Linked DNA regions of Homo sapiens. The protein of the gene in region 1 interacts with the protein of each later gene in a pairwise test. Each region holds a gene or a part of one and is shown in the gene's direction. Other genes may lie near its edges. The genes, in order: RNASE6 and ARR3.

Evidence for each region.
Region 2: the proteins of RNASE6 (region 1) and ARR3 interact in a two-hybrid assay, tested with the Homo sapiens proteins (one large-scale study listed by BioGRID and IntAct).

The regions. Positions count from the first base shown.
Region 1 is NC_000014.9:20,780,026-20,783,255, forward strand, and holds RNASE6 (ribonuclease K6 precursor), read left to right. Parts: upstream 1-1,242; 5' UTR 1,243-1,313; intron 1,314-1,669; 5' UTR 1,670-1,674; coding exon 1,675-2,127; 3' UTR 2,128-2,442; downstream 2,443-3,230. UniProt on the Homo sapiens protein: Ribonuclease which shows a preference for the pyrimidines uridine and cytosine.
Region 2 is NC_000023.11:70,274,819-70,278,641, forward strand, and holds part of ARR3 (arrestin-C), read left to right. Parts: intron 1-1,263; coding exon 1,264-1,463; intron 1,464-1,614; coding exon 1,615-1,674; intron 1,675-1,850; coding exon 1,851-1,918; intron 1,919-2,575; coding exon 2,576-2,711; intron 2,712-2,897; coding exon 2,898-2,982; intron 2,983-3,247; coding exon 3,248-3,320; intron 3,321-3,685; coding exon 3,686-3,823. UniProt on the Homo sapiens protein: May play a role in an as yet undefined retina-specific signal transduction. Could bind to photoactivated-phosphorylated red/green opsins.

The DNA.
Region 1 (3,230 bases):
GACATTATGTTTATTCTGCAGACATTTGGAGCCATAAAAGCATGGGGCAAGAGTGTTGTACTATTATATCTTGTTCAAAAAAAGACTAATCTGGAAGTAATATGTAGAATGGATTGGAAGGAGAAAAAAACAAGGCAAGGAGTCCATGTGGGAGGCTTTTATGTGAGCCCTCCATAAGACAATGAGTTTCTGAATAAGGGTGTTGCAGTACCAGTGAAAAGGTAAGAACAGATTCAAGAGGCAAATATCCTAAATTCGGCCTTCTTCTTCAGGCTTACAGGTCTTTTCATACACAATTCTGTCTTTGGGAGGCGCTTAACACTCTCTTCACCTAACTTCTAATTATTCCTCAAAATTCAGTTCAGGTGTTGTGCCCTCCAACAATCCTTCCCCTCTACTATCTTCCCGTAGCCTCCTGCAGTGTCCTCCATCACACTGTAAGTGCTATTTATATTAATATAATCTACTTGTCTATATACTTACCTGCCTGTCTCTAATCTCTTTCATTAAATCATGAGCTCCTGGCAGATCACGAGGTCAGGAGATAGAGACCATCCTGGCTAACACAGTGAAACCCCGTCTCTACTAAAAATACAAAAAAATTAGCTGGGCGTGATGGCAGGCACCTGTAGTCCCAGCTACTCGGGAGGCTGAGGCAGGAGAATGGCATGAACCCAGGAGGTGGAGCTTGCAGTGAGCAAAGATCGCACCACTGCACTCCAGCCTGGGCGACAGAGCAAGACTCCGTCTCAAAAAAAAAAAAAAAAAAAACTCATGAGCTCCTGAATTTGTGTAGCCTAGTACCTGGCCCAATAAGTATATGCATAAATGAATAATGTATTCACTTCTGTTGTAGGAACTTACAACATTACCAAGTATGTGGCAGGCATTATATCATATTTATGTGACATATTTTCTCTTAAGAAACAGGAATCATAAAGCTTCAAAAAAAAACACTGAAGCCTCAGATGAGGCAGGAAGCACTCATTCCATATCAGGAAGTGATCAGTTCCTCAAAACTGTGAGTTTTCAGTCATGTTGTTTCTTTAAGTTGGTTTAGCCTTCCTGTATACATGTGATAATGATACTGTTTTAAAGAACAGGTGTGAAAGTCTAAGAGTTTAATCCAGACTCTGCACAAGAAGTTAATCTGCCAAACCCTAGGATTCTCCTTCTGAAAGCTCAGAATATTTCTTCCCCTTCCCTATACACACAGGGCTCGAAGGGTTAGAGAAGAAAGGCAGACAACAGCTTCTGAGCTTTGGACTAATCACAGCCTCTGTTCTCAGCAGGAGCCCCAACACTGAGACCAGGTAAGAAAGAAAGCCTCAGGGCTGGAGCGAGTAGAGCAGTAAAGACGGCTGGGAGGTAGTGGTCAGATAGAGGGTAAATATTTCAGGAGGGAAGAGGGAAGAAACTTTCTGATATGACAGCCATCAAATGCATGAGTACTTGTGAAAGAAAATGGGATATGCCAATCAAAGGAGAGGTCATATTTCTGTTTCCTGGGCTTCAGGTTCTTCATAGAATTGTGAGACTATGTGAGAAAGAAGATTTTAAAGGGAGCTGTAAAATCTTAAAAGGCAAAATAAAAATCTAAATAGTTATGATTAAAAATTTTGCTCTTATTGCTTCTCCTACTATAACTATCTTCTCTCTTTCTACACAGAAAAGATGGTGCTATGCTTTCCTCTTCTTTTACTGCTGCTGGTTCTATGGGGACCAGTGTGTCCACTTCATGCTTGGCCTAAGCGTCTCACCAAGGCTCACTGGTTTGAAATTCAGCATATACAGCCAAGTCCTCTCCAATGCAACAGGGCAATGAGTGGCATCAACAATTATACCCAGCACTGTAAGCATCAAAATACCTTTCTGCATGACTCTTTCCAGAATGTGGCTGCTGTCTGTGATTTGCTCAGCATTGTCTGCAAAAATCGTCGGCACAACTGCCACCAGAGCTCAAAGCCTGTCAACATGACTGACTGCAGACTCACTTCAGGAAAGTATCCCCAGTGCCGCTATAGTGCTGCTGCCCAGTACAAATTCTTCATTGTTGCCTGTGACCCCCCTCAGAAGAGCGATCCCCCCTACAAGTTGGTTCCTGTACACTTAGATAGTATTCTCTAAGGCATCCACTGCATTTCCTTTCATTTGACATAGCTTCTGTTACAATTGCATCCATGTTTTCTTTTCTTTTGTTGATTTTCTTGTTCCCGTAGAAGAAAGAAGAAAGGTGTTTGGAGAATTCGAGTGCCTAGGATGCCAGACCAGAGTTGAGACAAAAAGAAATAAGATTATTTTCTGCTTTGTAGTTCTGTACTTTTCGAGAGAAGGGAATAGGGAAGACAGCAAAGAAAGATTCAGATTTCTAACCCTGCAACTTTTGCCAAGCTTTATTGCCCTGTGTTCACAGCAATAAAACCACTTCCTGCTGCATTCTAATGAGTGTGTGTTTGAGATCCGCTTTCAAAGCATTGTTGACCGGTACTCAGAGGAACACTGTTTTGACTTTAAGTCCCTAGAAAACTTTTGAGGCCTCCCTGGGGCCCCACTTCCTTGCCCACAAGAAAGGACAGCGTTTGGGACTTTGGAGCATTTCTTCAAACTCTGCTCATGACTTTATATATTCCCCTGGAAACCATTGTCTATGCTTAATTGGAGGTAGTACTGATACCTCAAAGACAGTTGATGATAACTCACACATAGATTCTGTCACTGGCAACTGAAGGATCCTATGTCTTTTCTATTTGTTTCCGTTTTTAATCAGATAATGTTTTAAATATAAGGTGATAGTAGTAGTAATAGGGATAATAATCCATTGTAGTAACCTTAGGGTCAATCCTCCATTATTTATTGAAATGGATAAATAGAAAGCATAGATCAAGAAAAAAGCACTAGGCTTGTCGTGGTGGCTCACGCCTGTAATCCCAGCACTTTAGGAGGCTGAGGCAGGTGGATCGTCTGAGGTCAGGAGTTCAAGACCAGCCTGGCCAACATGGTGAAACGCTATCTCTACTAAAGATACAAAAAAAGTAGCTGGGCGTGGTGGCAGTGCCTGTAATCCCAGCTACTCGGGAGGCTGAGGCAGGAGAATCGCTTGAACCCAGGAGGTAGAAGTTGCAGTGAGCAAATATTGTGTCACTGCACTCCAGCCTGGGCAACAGAGTGAGACTCCCATCTCAAAAACAAAAAAAGAAAAAGAGAAAAGCACCAGGAGACCCAATGCAGTG
Region 2 (3,823 bases), on another chromosome or scaffold:
ACAAAGAAGCCCCATGATCTAATCACCTCTTAATGGCCATCTTAATACCATCACAATGACCATCAAGTTTCAACTCCTGAGTTATGGAGAGGCCACATACAAACCATAGGGCATTCTTTGAAGTTCTAGCTCATTTATTTTAACCTTGGTTTAGTATTCCATTATGTGAATATACCACAAATTTTTTATCCATTCTCCTGTTGATAGATTTTTAGATTATCTCCAGTTTTATGTTCTGACAAACGTTGATGCGACGGCCATTATCATATGTATCTCTCCTGAACAAAAGCTCCTTTAAAGTCAACTTATTAGCTCATACTCTACGAGCAGATTTAATTTTACTGGATAATCCCAAATAGTCTTCCAAATTGGTTGCATTAATACTCCCACCAGCAGTATGTAAGAACTCCTTTTGCTCCACATCTTCATCAACACGTAGTGTTGTCACATTTAAAATTTTTTGACAATCTCATGGGTGTGAAATCTTATCTCGTTGTGGTTTTAATTTGCATTTATCTGATTACTCACGAGACTAAACATGTTTTCATATGTTATTGGCCATTCCTTCACACACTTTGCACACTTCTGCAAGGGCCTATTCACATTCTTTGCACAGTTTTATACTGGCATTATTGTTGATGTGTGGGAGTCCTTATATATTTTGGACTCTAAACTTCAGTGTGTTATATGTGTTGCAAAGATTTTCTCCCAGGCTTTCCATTTTTTTCTTTGTTTATAAAGACTTTGAATATAAAGAAGACTTTATAAAGACTTTTAACATAAATTTTACTGCAGTCAAATGTATTAAGAATCTTTTCATTTGTGCCCATAGCCTTCAATCTTTTTTTTTTTTTTTTTTTTTTTTTTTTGAGACAGAGTCTTGCTCTGTTGCCCAGGCTGGAGGGCAGTGACACGATCTCGGCTCACTGCAAGCTCTGCCTCCTGGGTTCACGCCATTCTCCTGCCTCAGCCTCCCAAGTAGCTGGGACTACAGGCGCCCACTACCACCAAGCCAGGCTAATACTTTGTATTTTTTTTTTAGTAGAGATGGGGTTTCACTGTGTTAGCCAGGGTGGTTTCTATCTCCTGACCTCGTGATCCACCCACCTCGGCCTCCCAAAGTGCTGGGATTACAGGCGTGAGCCACCGCGCCCAGCCAGCCTTCGATCATATTACATCACCTCTCTGTGTCTTCTTGACCCAGTTAAGATTCCCCTTCCCACTCAGGCCTGACAGACCACTCTCTTCCTCCTATGCCTGCAGTGTTTGTCATGTTGACATGTGCCTTTCGCTATGGCCGTGATGACTTGGAAGTGATTGGTCTGACGTTCCGAAAAGATCTGTATGTGCAGACCCTGCAAGTGGTCCCAGCTGAATCCAGCAGCCCTCAGGGGCCCCTCACAGTCCTACAGGAGCGACTACTGCACAAGCTAGGGGACAATGCCTACCCCTTTACCCTGCAGGTACTGACCCCAAGCCCTGGGCAGGCAAGGTCTCCAGGGAAGATTAAGAGAGGAAGCTCAAGAAGGACAACAAGGGAGAGGGTTCCCCATTTCTTTTGTATTTGTTTGTATTCTTTTCTACTTCTTTTCTGATCTCCTTTTTGTCCCCTAGATGGTGACCAACCTGCCCTGTTCTGTGACACTGCAGCCAGGTCCTGAAGATGCAGGAAAGGTGAGGACTGGGTTCTAAGAAAGAGGGATAGGTAGTGCCAGGGAAGAGGAACAGTGGGACAGTCAAGACTGGAGAAATGGACAGCTAAGGAAAGAGGTCAGGCATTTTCTTATAGGCCCATGAGGAAGGGAGGACAGCACTGGAAATGAGCTCTCTTTGCCCTTGTCCCTTTACAGCCCTGTGGGATTGACTTTGAAGTGAAGAGTTTCTGTGCTGAAAACCCAGAGGAGACAGTCTCCAAGAGGTATTCTTTGGTTGTCCCCAAAAATCCCTGCCTCCAGCCTCTGCCAGGAAACAGATCCTGCTCTCATGACAGAAATAGCCCCACTTCTAACCTCCACAGCCTCATCGCCACCAGTGACACCCGGTTCTGAGTCCCCTCTGACTTACCTTCTTTGATCTAGGGCAGGGGTCAGCAAACTTTTCTGTAATGGGCCAAAAAAAGAAATATTTGGCTTTTTGAGCCCTATAGTCTCCGTTGCAACTACTCAACTCTGCCGTTGTAGTGCAATCGCAGCCACAGATAGTATAGAAATGAATGAGTGTGGCTGTGTGTCCAATAGAACTTTACTTATGGACACTGAAATTTGAATTTCATGTAATGTCCACATGTCACAAAATAGCATTGTTCTTTGATTTATTTCAACCATTTACAAATGTAATATAACCATTCTCAGCTTGTGGGCCATAGGAAAACAGGCATCAGGCCAGATTTGGCCAGTGGGCCATAGTTTAATAACCTTTGGTCTACATGCTTACATTAAGGGACTAGAGGAGTTCTCTGAGGGAGGCCTTCCCCTGCTCCCATTCTTAAGCAACAATTGGACTATGGGGGTGGCATGGGAGAGGTCTGTGGGTCTGAAAGGAGGACGCTCTGGCTAATCTCTTGGTCTCTGCTCAGAGACTATGTGCGGCTGGTTGTCCGGAAAGTACAATTTGCACCACCGGAGGCAGGCCCTGGCCCCTCAGCCCAGACCATCCGCCGCTTCCTTCTGTCAGCTCAGCCCCTACAACTCCAGGCCTGGATGGACAGGGAGGTTTGTGACCCCCACTTTTTGCCTCCCACCCCAGAACCCCTCTGATGCCCTTTCTTCACTGATTTCCTACTTGGGCAGGCAGAGATGGGAGCCAGGGTGGCAATAGCGCTAAGGAAGCAGGGGTTCTAGGTCTCCATCTGCGTATTCGTCCTCCAGCCTTGACATGGGTCCCCGCTCCTGCTTTAGGTTCACTACCACGGAGAACCCATCTCTGTCAATGTTTCTATCAACAACTGCACCAACAAGGTCATCAAAAAAATCAAGATTTCAGGTGAGTTTCTTTTCCCATCCCTGTGCACCTGGTCCCAAAGCCACAGGTCTTTTCCCAAAATTCTATCTCACTTACCTGTCTGCATTCATCTAGGCTTTCCCTCTAACATGGGCTTGTCAAAATGCATATCTTGTTTTGTCAATGAGCATGTCTCACTGCATCATGTATAGTGTGCCTATGTATAAGGTCACATCTAAGGACACTGAGCTGGGGTCTCAAGGATGACTGACTGATTATAATCATGTGCTTTTCCTGGCTTGTTCAGTTGACCAGATCACAGATGTTGTCCTGTATTCACTAGACAAGTACACCAAGACTGTGTTCATTCAGGAATTCACGTGAGCTGGTGCTGGGGCTAGGACCAGAGAGCCAAGGGGTGGGGTGGTGGGAAGAGGTCCAGGAGGCAGTTGAGGGGGTAGAGTGGGGGAGAAGAGTGGTGGAAGATTCCAGGGAGGGATTCCCAGGAGAACTAGATGGAGGGGATGCAACTTACCCCCAGGAGTCCCATCACGATGCTGAGCGAGGGCAGGGGCATAAGGATTTCCCACCAGAACTAATTTCTCCCAGTCTTCAGTTAAACATGTTACCTCTCTTGGATACTCCAGTAGGTTCTTGTATAATCTTGTACAAGATACTCTTGGGAGTAAAAGTATGCTTAGTCAGCAAGCCCAGCCTAAATTCTTCTCTTGTTCTTCTTTTGTAGGGAGACTGTAGCTGCTAATTCCAGCTTCTCCCAGAGCTTTGCAGTAACCCCAATCCTGGCTGCCAGCTGCCAGAAACGGGGCCTGGCACTGGATGGCAAACTTAAGCATGAAGATACCAACCTGGCCTCTAGCACAAT